Linked DNA regions of Homo sapiens: region 1 is linked to region 2. A link means that fine-mapping ties the variant in region 2 to the expression of a gene that starts in the linked region. Tissue or cell type: whole blood. Region 2 holds a variant in brackets; the other region holds the start of a gene. All regions are shown on one strand. Distances are from middle to middle.

Region 1 (8,000 bases), 56 kb before region 2:
TGAGCTCCTCTGCGTTCTTCCTTGGGGGGATATCTGATTTTCTCTTTCACTCATGGCTATCAGTGGGAGCTGGTTTGGACCTGGCCATCCTAAAGTCAATTTGAGGAAATGCACAATCCGGTAGTATGAATACAGTGTCACTAGGTTATCCCCATAACTTATACTGAAACTTTCCAAGCCCCAAAACAGACACATCCATTGACATTCCCCTAGTGGGGCTTTTATGAACCCTGAGGGAGGTTCCAGAAAACTGGCTTAGAGTCATTGATCCCTCCCTCAATAGGGATATAATTATTATTGTTTGCATTTGCTCTTGGTAGCTTACATGATTCAACTAAGTATCCTTATTGACTTCTGATTTTTTTTTTTTTTTTTTTTTTTTTTTGAGACGGAGTCTCGCTCTGTCACCCGGGCTGGAGTGCAGTGGCACGATCTCAGCTCACTGCAACCTCCACCTCCCAGATTCACGCCATTCTCCTGCCTCAGCTTCCCGAGTAGCTGGGACTACAGGCGCCCGCCACCACGCCCAGCTAATTTTTTGTATTTTTCTAGAGACGGGGTTTCACCGTGTTAGCCAGGATGGTCTCGATCTCCTGACCTCGTGATCCACCCGCCTCGGCCTTCCAAAGTGCTAGGATTACAGGCGTGAGCCACCGCGCCCGGCCGACTTCTGATTTTTTTAAATCTTCCTGGAATCCTGGAGGCAATGAGCAAACAGGATGAAGGGTAATTAAACAGGCTTTTAGTTATAGGAAGCTCTGTGGAAAAAAAAAAAAAAAAAAAGCATTGGTGATCTAGAAACAGGGCCCAGAAGACTTTTTGAGGTTCAACTCAGGTGGTAGTGAGTCTCTGACATCACAACATTTCAGAGCGAATAAAATGTGGGAGCACCAAGAATAACAAGAAAGATCTTTGCAAAAAAGGAAAGAGGAGTAAACCAGATGGCTCTGGCTGGCTCCTCATGGCACATTGTGTCCTAGCTGATGGAAAGAATAGCAGGGCTTTGGGTAGAACTCCTGCCATTTTACGGCTTGAGGAGGCTGAGCCAGTGTGATGAGCCTTGGGGATGGGTGAGACAGTCCTGGTGTGGTCTGGGTGCTCTGCCAAATAGTGAGGGTGGTGCTGGGGTCACCACCCTAGGTACACAGGCATCCTCCTGGTGAAGCTGCACCAAGCATATTTGCATGGGCAATGTCCGACCCACCCAGGTAAGCCAGGGCTTGTGGAGCTGATGATCTTCCCTCTGTTTCATCCACTCTCTTGCCCCGTATCACTCTTCCCTTCATCCCTGTCTGCCTGTCTTTTTCTCTCTCTTTCCTAGACACACCCACTCATTTATTCATCTATGGAATTTCGATGTATGAATAGAAATGAGTAGTGAATGAGACGTTCATGGAAACAGCACTTATGAAACTTGCTTTCCATAAAACTGTACCATAATAAAATATGATGAGTCTTATGAAGGAGGACGTGGAAGGTGCTATGGGTGCCTTAGGACTCCTCCTCTCTCCTTTTATTCTCTCCTTCTCTCCCATCACACTTTCCCTTCTTTTCTTCTTGTCTCCATACAAACTCTTTCACTCTCTCTCCCTGGACTCCCTCACTTCTCTGCTCCTTTCCTGTCCCAGCTCTTTTCTCCTCTCTCATCTCCCTTCTCACTCTCCTCGCTCTTTCCCTGATTTCTTCTCTCCCTTCCTTTTTCTCTTCCTGCCTTTCCTTCCACCCATCTCCCAGCCTCACCCTGAACCCTGACAATGCTCAGTTCTCATTTTAAAAGACACTTTCCCCAACTCCAGCCCCATGTGCACACACCTGGGCAGTCACATCCCTGCCCACACATAAAACACCTCCCTATGGGGTTCCAGCATTTGATCCCTGTTACCTGGGAGCAGGGGGAAATTGCTGCTTCCCTTGCTGAAGTTGGATGCACAGGCACATAAAATTCAGAGGCATTAGACTTCCATGGTGAGCCGGAATCACAAACAAACCCCAGAATGTGTTGAAATCTTACCCTTAAGTTTAAATGAGGAGGTTAAAATTTGGCACAGAGCAGTTTATAGATCACCTTCTGCATCTACTTCACAACCCTATTAGGTCAGGTTGATAACTATCACTATTGTTATCATCATCTCCATTTACAGACCAGGAACCTGAGGCTGAGAGAGAGAAGCACTTGCTCAAAGTCACACAACCACAATGGCACATCAGGATTCGATCTTAGGTCCTCTAACAAAGCCCTCATTAGTTCATGAAAGGAGCACACCGCAAAATGGAAGCGAGGCCCTTGCCCCAGAGATTGCCACCTCTCTTCAACAGCCCCTACCACACATAGGCGTGGGGAAAGGAAAGAGAGATCAGATTGTTACTGTGTCTGTGTAGAAAGAACTAGACATAGGAGACTCCATTTTGTTCTGTACTAAGAAAAATTCTTCTGCCTTGAGATGCTGTTAATCTGTAACCGTACCCCCAACCCCGTGCTCCCTGAAACATGTGCTGTGTCGACTCAGGGTTAAATGGATTAAGGGCTATGCAAGATGTGCTTTGTTAAACAGATGCTTGAAGGCAGCATGCTCGTTAAGAGTCATCACCACTCCCTAATCTCAAGTACCCAGGGACACAAAACACTGCGGAAGGCCACAGGGACCTCTGCCTAGGAAAGCCAGGTATTGTCCAAGGTTTCTCCCCATGTGACCATCTGAAATATGGCCTCGTGGGAAGGGAAAGACCTGACTGTCCCCCAGCCCGACACCCGTAAAGGGTCTGTGCTGAGGAGGATTAGTAAAAGAGGAAGGAACGCCTTTCTGCAGTTGAGACAAGAGGAAGGCATCTGTCTCCTGCCCGTCCCTGGGCAATGGAATGTCTCGGTGTAAAACCCGATTGTATATTCCATCTACTGAGATAGGAGAAAACCGCCTTAGGGCTGGAGGTGGGACATGCGGGCAGCAATACTGCTGTTTAAGGCATTGAGATGTTTATGTGTATGCATATCTAAAGCACAGCACTTAATTCTTTACCTTGTCTATGATGCAGAGACCTTTGTTCACGTGTTTATCTGCTGACCTTCTCTCCACTATTATCCTATGACCCTGACACATCCCCCTCTCCGAGAAACACCCAAGAATGATCAATAAATACTAAGGGAACTCAGAGGCTGGCGGGATCCTCCGTATGCTGAACGCTGGTCCCCTGGGCCCCCTTATTTCTCTCTACATACTTTGTTTCTGTGTCTTTTTCTCTTCCAAAGTCTCTCGTTCCACCTAACGAGAAACACCCACAGGTGTGGAGGTGCAACCCACCCCTTCAATAGGCCTAAGGACAGGTCTATGGCCCTTGGGATTCTTATTCTTCTCGTTGCCTGCACATATGTAGATATAATGATAATGCATGTGCACAAGCCCACACACGCATACACACACACATGCTCACCTCCCCCATACTGCTTGCTCTAATTTCCACTTCTACTCACTTCATTCTCAATACCCATCTCCCATTTGAAGGCACAGAATTCAGTGTCAGATGCTTCAATGAGCGACTGAGATGAAAATGTGACCTCTCACCCATTTTTCCTTCCATATCCCTTTTTCCTAAGTGCCCCAAACACACACACCCACACACACACCTTCCAGGTTAGCATTGTAAACTTACTCAGATCCTGCAATTCCACCTCCAAGTGGGAGAGTCTCTTTATCACTGCCCCGTAGCGTTTATTCAGATGTAAAGGAAGCTCCCTGTGGAGACCACCCGTAAACAGGTTTTGTAAAGTCCCCTTGCTAGAAAATACCAGAAGGAGATTGACAGCAATGGCCAGAGTCAGCCCAATGAAGAGGGCTTTGGGGAGTTTCCTCCAAAACATCATCTTCTTCCTGGGGGTCGTCCACTCCCTGTGGGACTGAGTGTGTCACTGCTGGAGCAGGTTAAGAATCAGAACCAGCCTAGCTTTTGTGGGAAAGAGAGTTCTAGGTGCCAGTTGAGTTGGTCTCCCCTGTGTGAGACACCCATGGGAAGCCACGGGTGGCCTCTGAGGAGCAAAGTCTCCTTATTGCCTTCTTTGTCTTTATGCCCCGAGAGGATAACCGCTCAGCGGCTTTCCACAGGTTGCTCAGCGGCTTTCCACAGGTTGCTCAGGGAGATAACACTCCCTTGAAGCAGAGGAGTATAATCAAACATCTTGGCTCCTCCTGAAACCCACTCCCACCCATTTCAGTCATTAAAGATCTTAAGTAGTTTAGACACACGCCTTTGCTCAAGGAAATTCACAGAAACCGCCACTGTTACACATCTTATCGAATGACTCACTGATTAATCCTTTTCCTCATCCCTTCCTCCCCTTCCCATCTGCCCTAAGAACAAAGAGCTTGTAAACCAATAAATTGGGTGGAGCCCAGAGCTCTGGGCCGTGAGCAAGCCTCCAACGCTCTGGTCCCCTGGACCTGCCTTTTAAACGCTTGTTCTGTCTCTTTCTAACTCCTTTGTCTCCGCCGGACTCGGGGTATCCGCTGGGTGGTGTGGGGCTGGTTTCCCCAACAGCTTTCTCTCCACCCAGCTTCATAGATGACACCCTGCCTGCTAGGCCAGATGTTCTCCGGCCAAGAACACTATTATAGCTGCCTGGCTTCTCCCTGAGCAGCGTCAGGTGTGAGGAGTGCGCATGGCAGCTGCCCAGTGACAGGTAAGTCACCTGGACACACCTTGTACTGTCTCAGAAGTCAGAAGAATGCTTGCTCCTGCAGCTAGCTCAGGCTGCCTGGGTGAGAGGCTTTTCTCTATATATGTTTGTTTGATGTTTAATGTTCTCTCTCCCTGGAAAAACCACCTGGGAGACTCTGATAGGGCATGTGAGGTCTGGTCCTGTGGGTATAAGAAGGGGATAAATAGGATGAAGAAGAAATCACGAAGCAAGAAGTCTCTGTACACTTAGATCCTTGCTTTTTTGGAGAGCTGGGATCTAAGATGTCTTTTTACCTAACTCTACAGGGTTTTGGACATAGTAGGTGTGCAACAAATGCTTGTCCCACAAACTTAAGGACAGACTTTCTTGCTAGTTCCTAGGACTTCACTGCCTAGAAGCAGGTGGAGAAGAGCTGGAGGCGGTGCCCGGGGTTGAGCCTCAGGGGATGACTCCGATTCACTGGTCTCTGTCCTTTGCTTGTCCTCTGCACAACTTCATACACTGGGCTTCTGCCCTGCCCCAGCTTCCAGTAACTCCTTTGCCTCCACACCTCACACTTATAATATGTTTTGGACAAATCACCAGTGATCATCATTGTAGAATAAACACATAAAATTGTTCCCCAAGGCTAAAAGTTCAAAGTTCTCAGTCTACTGTCAATCCCGTCAAAATCACAGCTTCCACCCCGGCCTGGCTCTTTGGACTATTTACTACGTCCCAAACACAGCACATGGTGACATGTGCTGAGGCGGACATGTGGATTAAAGGAAAGTAATGTGGCTTTAGGAAAAACAGGATGAAAATGAACAAAATGAAAAGGAATCACTTCTTCTGTTTCGCAGGGATAGAAAATGTCTCCCAGCCTCCCACTTGCAAATTAGACTCAAAACATAAGAAACGCATGATCCAGCCAGGCGCAGTGGCTCACGCCTGTAATCCCAGCACTTTGGGAGGCCGAGGCAGGTGGATCACCTGAGGTCAGGAGTTCAAGACCAGCCTGGCCAACATGGTGAAACGCCATCTCTACTAAAAATAACAAAATTAGCTGGGCATGGTGGCAGGCACCTGTAATCCGAGCGACTTGGGAGGCAGAGGCAGGAAAATCGCTTGAACCCAGGAGGCGGAGGTTGCAGTGAGTCGAGATCGCGCCACTGCACTCCAGCCTGGGCAACAAGAACAAAACTCCATCTCAAACAACAACAACAACAACTACAAAAAACAAACAAACAAAAAAGCATAACCCTTCTGCTTCTGGGACAAGAAGAAATACCTACATTTATCTTCTCTATTCCTTCCCATCAAGGCAAGTAAAAAGTACACATGATATGTAAAACAAACCTAAGAAGACTCTGAAAGGTAGAGAGAACAGGGCAGGCTGACTAGAGATCTCCAGATATCCTAGCTATTGTAGGAAATAGATTCCAAGTTGCTGGATGCTGGAGCAGTCAACAACTTGGAAATGCAATGGGCAGAGACAATAGAAGCCCCAAGAAAAAGCTGCTTTCTCTAACCAAAGAAACAGGAAATGGGAAGCCTAGCAAGACAGAAGATGTTTAGACAACAACTGCCCTACTCCAGCCAAATGCCACTGAAAACCTTGCAGTGCCATGCCCACCACATCCACAGAGGCCTCGTGGGGAGCCTAGACTTCCAACCTCACCCCAGCTGTGAGGGTTTGCCCCTGCATCCCCCACCTTCCCCTCCAGGGTGTGTCAGTGAAGGTCTCTTGGGGAGCTGGCATTTTTGTCATTGTCCCCACATGATATCAGTAAAGGAACAGTGGCCCTCCCCTTTTCAGCCAGTGTGGTGTCAGCAGAGGGCTAGTGGGGAACCTGAACTCCCTCCCTCACCCATCAGTAATGAGGCAGCCCTCCCCACCAGGTGTCAGTGGAGGCCAAGCATGGAACCTGGGCTTCCTCTCCCACCTGGCAGCGATGAGATGAAATCTCCCTCTCCCCACCAGAACAGTGTATGAAAGGCCTGCTAAAACAGATTTACATAGGATCCAGAGTCTCAAAAAGTTATATTCAGAATGGCCAAGATGCAATAGAAAATCACTTGTCATATCAACAACCAGGAAAATCTCAACTTGGAAGAGCCTATCAACAGACAGCAACACCAGCCGGGCATGGTGGCTCATGCCTGCAATCACAGCACTTTGGGAGGCTGAGGCAGGAGGAGGATGGCTTGATTCCCAGGAGTTTGAGAGCAGCTTGGGCAACATACTGAGACCCTGTTTCTACTAAAAAATAAACTTTTTTTTAAATTGGCATGGCATGGTGGCTCACACCTGTAATCCCAGCACTTTGGGAGGCTGAGGCAGGCAGATCACTTGAGCCCAGGAGTTCAAGACCAGCCTGAGCAACACGGTAAAACCCCATCTCTACAAAAAATTTAAAAAAATCAGCCAGGCATGGTGGCACATGCCTGTGGCCCAAACTACCCAGGATGCTAAGGTGGGAGGATCACCTGAGCCCAGGAGGTTGAAGCTGCAGCGAGCCATGATCGTGCCATTGCACTCCAGCCTGGGTGACAGAGTGAGACTGTGTCTCAAAAAAAAAAAAAAATTAAAGCAGACACAAACACCAAGATGACACAGATGCTGGAATTGTCTGACAAGGATTTAAAAGCAGCCATAGTAACATTGCTTGAACGACTGATTATGAACATGCTTGAAACGAATGAAGAAACAGCAAGGAAATCAGATGTTTTAGCAAAGATATAGAAATCTCAGGAAAGAAATTGAAGACATAAAAAAGAAACAAATGGAAATTTTATAAGTGAAAAATACAATAAACAAAATTTAAAAATCACTGGGTAGGCCTCAACTGTAGAATAAGGACAGAGAAAAGAATCAGTGAACTTGAAGATGGAATAATAGAAAATGCTCAATCTGAAAAACAGAGAGAAAGTAGACTAAAAAAAAATTAAACCTCAAAGGCCGGTGAGATTACAACAACAGATCTAATATTCATGTCATCGGAGCCTTAGAAGGAAAAGACAAAATGTGGGGCTAAATAAGAATGTAAAGAAATAAGGGCTGGCTGGGCACGGTGGCTCAGGCCTGTGATCCCAACACTTTGGGAGGCTGAGGCAGGTGGATCACCTAAAGTCAGGAGTTCGAGACTGTGGGGCCACAGCCTGACCAACATGGTGAAACCCCATCTCTACTAAAATTACAAAAAATTAGCTGGCCGTGGTGGTGCACACCTGTAATCCCAGCTATGGGAGGCTGAAGCAGGGGAATCACTTGAACCCAGGAGGTGGAGGTTGCAATGAGCTGAGATCGCGCCACTGCACTCCAACCTGGGCAAGAAAATCAAAACTCTGT
Region 2 (8,257 bases):
AGCAAAGAAAAGAGGTCAAATGTCTAGACAACTAGTCTGCTCTGCAATGCTAAATGCATCGCTACGACCAAGACTGGACTCTAGCTGCACCCATTCTAAGGAGAAACATGGAACTCTTCCTCCTTATGATACTCATCTGTTGATATGGCAGATGAGCTGTCTATCTAGTTAATATCTAGATGAGTTCTGCTGCTGTATCAACAGATGAGTGATACAGCACAGATAACCCAGAAAAAGGGCCTGATGGAAATATTAGTTGATATATGGTGCTGGCACAATTATTCTGCTATTTGAAAAAAAGGTGAGATAATGTCTTAGTTCTCACCATAAACTAAAACAAATCCCAAGTAGTTTAAATGTTAGGTTAAAAAAGTTTTTTTTGTTTTGTTTGTTTGTTTTTCTTTTTTTTTTAAACCATTTAAGAGTAGAAATTAGGCCGGGCACAGTGGCTCATGCCTGTAATCCCAGCACTTTGGGAGGCCAAGATGGGCGGATCACAAGGTCAGGAGTTTGAGACCAGCCTGGCCAATGTGGTGAAACCCCATCTCTACTAAAAATACAAAAATTAGCTGGGCGTGGTGGCACACACCTGTAGTCCCAGCTACTTGGGAGGCTGAGGCCAGAGAATCGCTTGAACCTGGGAGGCAGAGGTTGCAGTGAGCCGAGATCACGCCACCGCACTCCAGCCTGGGTGTCAGAGTGCGACTCTGTCTCAAAAAAAAAAAAAAAAAGAGTAGAAATTATTCACAATAGTACAATAAAGAATAAAATACTTAAAAATAAACTTTATCAAAGTGGCAAAAGACACATATGCTGAAAACCACAAAACATTGCTGAAAGAAATTAAAGGCACAATTAAATGGAAAGGCATCCCAAGTTCATGGAATGGAAGACTTAATATTGTTAGGATGTTGCTATGGTTTAAATATGTTCCCTCCAAAGTTCAGATGTTGCCAATGTGATAGGAACTAAGAGATAATTAGGCCATGAGGGTGCTCCCTCATGAATAGGATTAAGGCCCTCATAAAGGAGGCTTCATGAAGCATTCAGCTAGCTTGCTCTTCTCCTCTTCTGCCATGTGGGGACATAGCATTTGTCCCTTTCACCCTTCCACCTTCCACCATGTGAGCACACAGCAAGAAGGCCCTCACCAGATGACAGCACCTGGATCTTGAGATTCCCAGCCTCCAGAACTGTTGGAAATAAATTTCTCTTCTTTATAAATTACTCAACGTTTGTTGTACCCCAAAATGGACTAAGACATATGTCAATTCTACCCAAAGCAATCTCAGATTTAATGCAATCCCTATCAAAATCCCAATGGCTTTTTATTTTTGCAAAAATATAGAAAACTCCATCCTAAAATTCATATGACATTTAAAGGGATTCCTTTAAATAGCCAAAACAATCTTGAAAAAGAACAAATTTTTGGAAGTCTCACACACTTTCTGATTTCAAAACTTACTACAAAGGCACAGTAATCAAAACAGTGTAGTGATCAAAACAGTGGCGTAAAGAAAAACATACAGAGCAATGGAATAGAGAAAAATAACTCTTGCATATATGGTCAAATGATTTCTGACAAAAGCACCAAGACCATTCAATGGGGAAAGATAATCTTTTCAACATACTGGATAACCACATGCAAAAGAATAAAATTGGACCCTTACCTCATACCATATACAAAAACTAAGTCAAAATGGATCAAAGACCTAAACCTAAGAGCTAAAACTCTAAAACTCTTAGACAAAAACAAAAGGAGAAAGCTTCATGGCATTGGACTTGGCAACGACTCCTTAGATACAATACTAAAAGCACAGGCAACAAAAGTAAAAATAGATAAGCCTGACTACATCAAAATTAAAACTTCTGTGCATCAAAGAACACAATTAACAGAGTGAAGAGACAAACTAAAAAATGAGAGAAAATTTTACAAATCACATATCTGATAAGTATTTAATGTTCTGAATAAATAAAAAAACTCCTACAACTCAATAACAAAAAATAAACAACCCAATTTTAAAAATTAGCCAAGGACATGAACAGACATTTCTCCAAATAATAAAGTAGCCAAAAAGCACATGAAAAGATGCTCAACATCACTAATCATTAGGAAAACATAAATCAAAACCACATTGTTGCCAGGCGTGGTGGCCCATGCCTATAATCCTAGAACTTTGGGAGGCTGGGGCAAAAAGACTGCTTGAGGCCAGGAGTTTGAGTCCAGCCCGGGCAAGAGAGCAAGACCTGTCTCTACAAAAATATATATATTTTTTAAGCCAGGTGTGGTGGTACACACCTCTAGTCCCACCTATGTAGGAAACTGAGGCAAGAGGATCCCCTGAGCCCAGGAGTTCAAGGCTGCAGTGAGCTGTGATTGTATCACTGCCTAGGTGACAGAGCAAGACCCAATCTCAAAAACAAAAACAAAAAAACCACACACAATGAAATACCACCTTAGAACTATTAGGATGGCTATTATAAAAAAAAAAAAAAACAGAAAATAACAAATATTGACAAAGATCTGGAGAAAGTGGAAACCTTGTGCACTGTTGGTGGCAATGTAAAATGGTGCAGCCACTGTGGAATACACTATGGTGGCTTGTCGAAAAAGTAAAAATAGATATACCATATGCTACAGAATTCCACTTCTCAGTACATACACCAAATAACTGAAATCAGGGATATTTCGTACATCCATGGTCATTGCAGCATTATTCACAATAGCCAAAAGTGGGAAGAAATCCAAGTATCCATTGATGGATGGCTTATTAAACAAAATGTGGTATAGACATATCACAGAATATTATTCAGCCTTCAGTAGGAAGGAAATCACATCACGTGGTACAACAGGAATGCACCTTGAGCATATTATGCTAAGTCAAATAAGCCAGCTACGAAAAGACAAATACTGTATGATTCCACTTATATGAGGTGGTCAAATTCATAGAAACCAAAAGCAGAATGGTAGTTGCCAGGGGCTGGGGGGAAGGAGGGAACAGAGAGTTGTTTAAGGGGTACAGAATTTCAGTTTTACAAGATGAAAAAGTTCTGGGGATTGGTTGTACAACAATGTAAATATCTTAATACTACTGAACTGTACTCTTACAAATAGTTAAAAGGGTCTTAATCTTGTCTTAGTCTCAAGACTCTAAACTCCAAAGTCGCATCCAAATATTATCTAAATCAGATATAGGTAAGACTCAAGGTGTGGGTCATCCTGAGGCAAAATTCCTAACTATGAACATGTGAAACCAGACAAGTTATGTGCTTCCAAAATACAGCCGTGAGACAGGCATAAGATAGACATTCCTATTCTAAAAGGAAGACGTAAGAAAGAAAGGGTAACAACTCCCAAGTAAGTCCAAAACTTAGCAAGGTAAATTCTATTAGATTTTAGAATCTAATAAAAACACACACACAATGAAACACCACCTATTAGGGTGGCTACTAAAAATCAATAATCTTCTTTGCCTAGATGCATTGCCTTCTAGATTCACAGAGGTGGTGGTCTCACCTTCAGGACCCACTGAAGCGGTAGTTCTAACTTCTAGGACCTACTGGGGCAGCAGCCCCACCCCAATAGCTCTCCTGGGCAGAGGGTCAACACCTCAAAGGTTCCAGGGGGCTGTAGCCCCAAGGATCAGGCAGCTGTACCTCCAAGACTCTGGGTGGTCCCACCTCCAAGGCCTCTGACAAAGGCCATGTGGTGTTTAAACTGAGGCAATGGCCCCATCCTTTGAAACCAAAGAGATAGTTCTAAACATCTCTGAACCCCTTTTGGGGTCATTCTTCCCTTTTCTTGAAGAATAGCTCAAATTCACAGCCAAATAGCTCTGTGGTCTGGTCCTGTAGGATATCAGAAGTCAGACAGGCTTCTTTCATTCTGCCCCTTCTAGTTCAAACTGGTGGTGACTTTGCTGATGTAATCTCATCTCTATTCCTGGCTTCTGCCAAGATAGCTTGTTAGTTGGTGAGTCGCATCCACAATCTCTTCATCAAATGGTTGTTCAGCCACACTCTTAGTGTTCTCTTCAAAACAAGCTTTCTCATTTTTTGCAATATGGATAAGCTGAGAATTTTCCAAATCTTCAGGTTCCGGTTCCTTTTTGCTTAACAAGTCCTTCTTCATTTCCTCTTTCTCTCTTTTTCTATTCTGTTGTAAGCAGTCGGGAGGAACCAAGGCATTTCTTCAATACTTTGTACTTAGAAATCTTCTCAGCTGAATAAACAATTTCATCACTCACAAGTTCTACCTTCCACTAGAACACACACAGATCAGCCAATTTCTTTGCCATTTTATTATATGGATCACCTTTCCTCCAGTTTCCAATGACATCTTACTCATTTCCATCTGAGACCTTACAAAAATCACCCTTAACGTCCATATTTCTACCAGGTACCTCAAAACTCTTCTAGCCTCTACCTTTACATAGTTCCAAAGGCACGTTCACATTTTTAGGTATTTGCTACAGCAGCACCCCACTTCTTGGTACCAAAATCTATTTTGGTCTGCTCAGGCTACCATAACAAAATACCATAGACTGGGTGGCTTGTACAATAAAAATGTATTTTCTCACAGTTCTGGAGGCTGGCAAATTCAAGATCAAAGTGCCAGCCAGTTTGGTTCCTGATAAGGGCTCTCTTCCTGGCTTGTAGACAGCAGATTTCTTGCTGTGTCCTCACATATGGCCTTTCCTCAGTATGTGCACACAGGGAGAGAGAGATCTCTCTTTTTGCCTCTTCTTATAAGGTCACCAATCCTACTGAATTACGACCTCACCCTTATGGCCTCATTTAACCTCAATTTCCTCCAAAAGTCCTAACTCCAAATAAATTCACAATGGTGTTAAGGCTTCAACATACGAATTATGAGGGGG[C/GC]GCAATTTAGCCCATAGCAGATGGGAAATTTTATACTATGTATATTTTGCCACAATTTTTTTTAAGTAGAAATTATTACAGATGTTAGGTGGACACAAGCAACAGGGGGAAAAACAAGATAGAAACATCTAAATTGGATAAACCAATATCCAATACAATGGAATATACACAATGGAATACTATTTAGCTATATAAAGAAATGAGCTATCAAGCTATGAAAAGAAATGAAAGAACCTTAAATGCATATTGCTAAGTGAAAGAAGTCCACCTAAAAAGGCTACATACTGCAATGATTCTAACCATATATGTAATATCCTGGAAAAGGCAAAACTATAGAGACAATAAAAAGATCAGTGGTTGTCTGGGGTTAGGGGTGGGTAGGAGGGTAAGAATCAATACATATAACACAGGGGATTTTAGGATAGAGAAACTATTCCATGTGATATTCGAATATTTGCCAAGGTCACAGAGTTAGCTGGGCCAAGACTTAAACTCAAGTCTCTGACTCCCAAGTTCATGCTCTTTCCATTAATCTAAGTTGCTTCTTTTGATATGGAATATAACAAAGACTACATTGACTATGAAAATATAAACTTAGGGGAGGAAAAGGCAACTGGGAAAGAAAAAATATATCCTTAGTCTGTCAATCAGAGAAAACTGTTAGCTTGAGCAGCTTCAACTTGGTTAATCAGTATCCCTCTCTTCTACCATTAAGAAAGAATACGTACTTGCAAAAGAATTAAGGAATCTATCCTCTCTTCCAAAGATGTCCGACGGCTTTACGATAATGGCTTCCGGAAATGCATCTCTCACTACTTTCTCTCCAACAGCCTAAACAATAACCAAACAAACCTGTTTTGAGTTTAGAGACAAGTGAATAAAGCATCCATTCTTTCCACTATTAAGACATGACTTGTATTTCAAAGGCGATATTTTCCTCCAGATAAAGGTAATCATGTAATTCATAAAACTCAGTTACACAGAACTTTTAAAAAATATAATCCACAAAAATGTCCTGCACCTTACAGATTGGGTTGGGTCTCTTCCAATTTTTTTATTTTAAGGGAAGCTTACATTGAAGAAGGAGAAAAATCAAAGTAGAATTTCTTCAGCCTCCATTTTTCCTTCTATTTACAGATTCTCTGGTTTGTGTCAACCATCTAGCAGCCTGTTAGAAAAAGGACAGTATGGTGGCAGCAGGCTGCAATAATGGAAGTGTCACCAGTACCTACATATCCAAAGGAGGTTGGGGATAGAGTCACTAATCCTCCTAATCTCAATTGCTGTACCATCCTTACTTGTTATCATCTACTAGCCTCCTAGGCAAGTCTTCTTGTTCGATGAAGATATCAGCACCTAATTCAGTCTTCCTTTCTACTTCCACCACCACTGGAGGTGACATGATGTCCAAGTGGGCTTGGACTTCTCAGGTTCTTGAGCTGCTCAACTCCAACGACCTCCTCTTCCTTCCACCTCTACCACTCTTAACTTGGTTACACCACCTACTGTATCAACATCTGGAATTGCTCTTCTTCTGAGGTATTAAATGAAGACATCCTGCTCTTGGATGTCCATTTCCTACAATTTCCAGCCTGCTTGTTCTTTGTTCATCTGCTCCTGGGATACCTGTTTCTCAACCTTCTCAAGAACTCTAGTGCACTGATTCTGCTTCCCCTGTATCAACTCTTCCGACTGTTCCTGTCCTTCCCTCTGAATTCCAGATTAGGTTCCATAGACCATCTTCTCATCACTCTCTTGCCAATATTGTAAACTACCTTGTCCCTTTGTCCTTTACTCTAGCCACCAGGCAAAATTCTAATCCTAGAAGAACTCCATTGGCCTCCCTTGGGCCATGCACTCCCACTGTCTTGAGCAGCTGGCAGGAAAATAAATCAATAAAAACCATGAATTGGTACCACTATAAATTCATGCCTCCAATTTTAACCAGGCCCTCAACATTTCCCAAAAACCGTGTTTTCCTCTAATTAACTTACTTTCCCATGAGACAATTTGAAACATTTTCTACTGTATTCAAATTTCAGACATCCCTTTCTTTTCTCTTCCTTCCAGTAAATGACTCTGCCTTCTAATAAAAGAGAAAATGTAAGACAGTAGAGGAAAAACCACCTCAAGTTCTCACCACTAAATCTACAAACCCCGGTATATAAAGCACAATTTTCTCCTCCTCTCTTACCTGATGGGAGGAACAGTGCCACTTTCAATGCTTTAGAGCTCATGTCCTTTCACTTTTTCAGGAACCTGTCCAATTTACTCTCTCTTCCACATCCTCAGCCTCACTCTTTTTACCAGCATCTCCCTACCAGCATGTAAACAATGTAGATCCTCTACCTTAAAAAAAAACATACCAACTCCACATCCCCCTCCAGCTTCTATCCTCTCAGTCTTTCATCTTCCTCTTGCCAGTCAAGCTACCTGAAAATGTACCTACCCTTACCATTCCCACTTCCTCAGTTCCAACTCACTCTTCACGCACCCGCATTCTGGATTCTGCTCCAACCACTGCACTCAATCTATTCTTGATAAGATCACCAATGACCTCCATGTCAGTAGATCCAAGGAGACTTTACAGTTAACATTTGCTTGACTTCTCAATGGCATTCATAAGTATTCACTTCCTCCTGTGAGACTGTCTGGCCATGGCTTCCCTAGCACTGTACTCTCCTGGTTTCCCTTCCGCCTTATCATGTCCTGCTTAGTCTTTCTGTTTGATTGGTTTGGGTTTCTGCAGGTGCCTCCTTCTCTACCAGATTACTAACCATTGGTATGTTCTGGGCCCAATCTGAAACTACCTTCTCAATCTTCAGCCATCTTATCCTCTCTCATCACTTAAATTAACAACAAATGCTGGTAACTCCCACATTTCTGTCTCCAACCCAGACCTCTCTTCTGACCTCCAGGATCAGAAACCCTATATACCAGTTACTTGGAAGATTGACACACATCTGAAATGCACCTGAAACGTGAGTCCAAAACTCAATCATCTTCCATTCTCTCAAGTAAAATAGTGCTCCTCAATCTTTGCTGCACTCAGAATTACCTAGACAGAGTTAAAAAATACTGGTGCTGAAGTTGCAACCCCAGAAATTGTTTTAATTGGTCTGGAGCGCAGCCTAGGCATCAGAATTTTTAAAAGCTCCCTCAGTGGTTTTAATGTGCAACTAAGGCTAAGACTCACTGCCCTACAGCCTAGTCCCTCCCAAGCATTTCCCATCTTATTCAACAGTACTATCATCTACCCAGTGGCTTCAGCCAGAGGGCTGGACATCTTTGACTCTTCTCTCTTCCTCACCATTGACACCTCCCATTCCCTTCCAGTCATGAAATTCTGATGATTTTATGAATGTTTGGGCAGAGGC

What was found. PIP is the estimated chance that this variant, and not a neighbour inherited with it, causes the effect.
Region 1: it holds the start of GALNT8, and the variant in region 2 is fine-mapped to the expression of GALNT8 in whole blood (TOPMed, PIP above 0.99).

The regions. Positions count from the first base shown.
Region 1 is chr12:4,716,534-4,724,533 of GRCh38, reverse strand. It overlaps GALNT8 (polypeptide N-acetylgalactosaminyltransferase 8), which reads right to left and starts at 4,134. Exons shown (of 11, transcript NM_017417.2): 1 at 3,646-4,134. The coding sequence starts at 3,856. It overlaps GAU1 (GALNT8 antisense upstream 1), which reads left to right and starts at 4,432. Exons shown (of 4, transcript NR_110112.1): 1 at 4,432-4,669. RefSeq lists enhancers at 2,026-3,021, 3,022-4,017, 4,018-5,013.
Region 2 is chr12:4,659,987-4,668,243 of GRCh38, reverse strand. NDUFA9 (NADH:ubiquinone oxidoreductase subunit A9) reads right to left here. Exons shown (of 11, transcript NM_005002.5): 6 at 5,609-5,711. Among named protein-coding and RNA genes, the nearest start is that of NDUFA9, 15 kb to the right of the region's middle. The variant C/GC (reference allele first, on the strand shown) is at 4,881.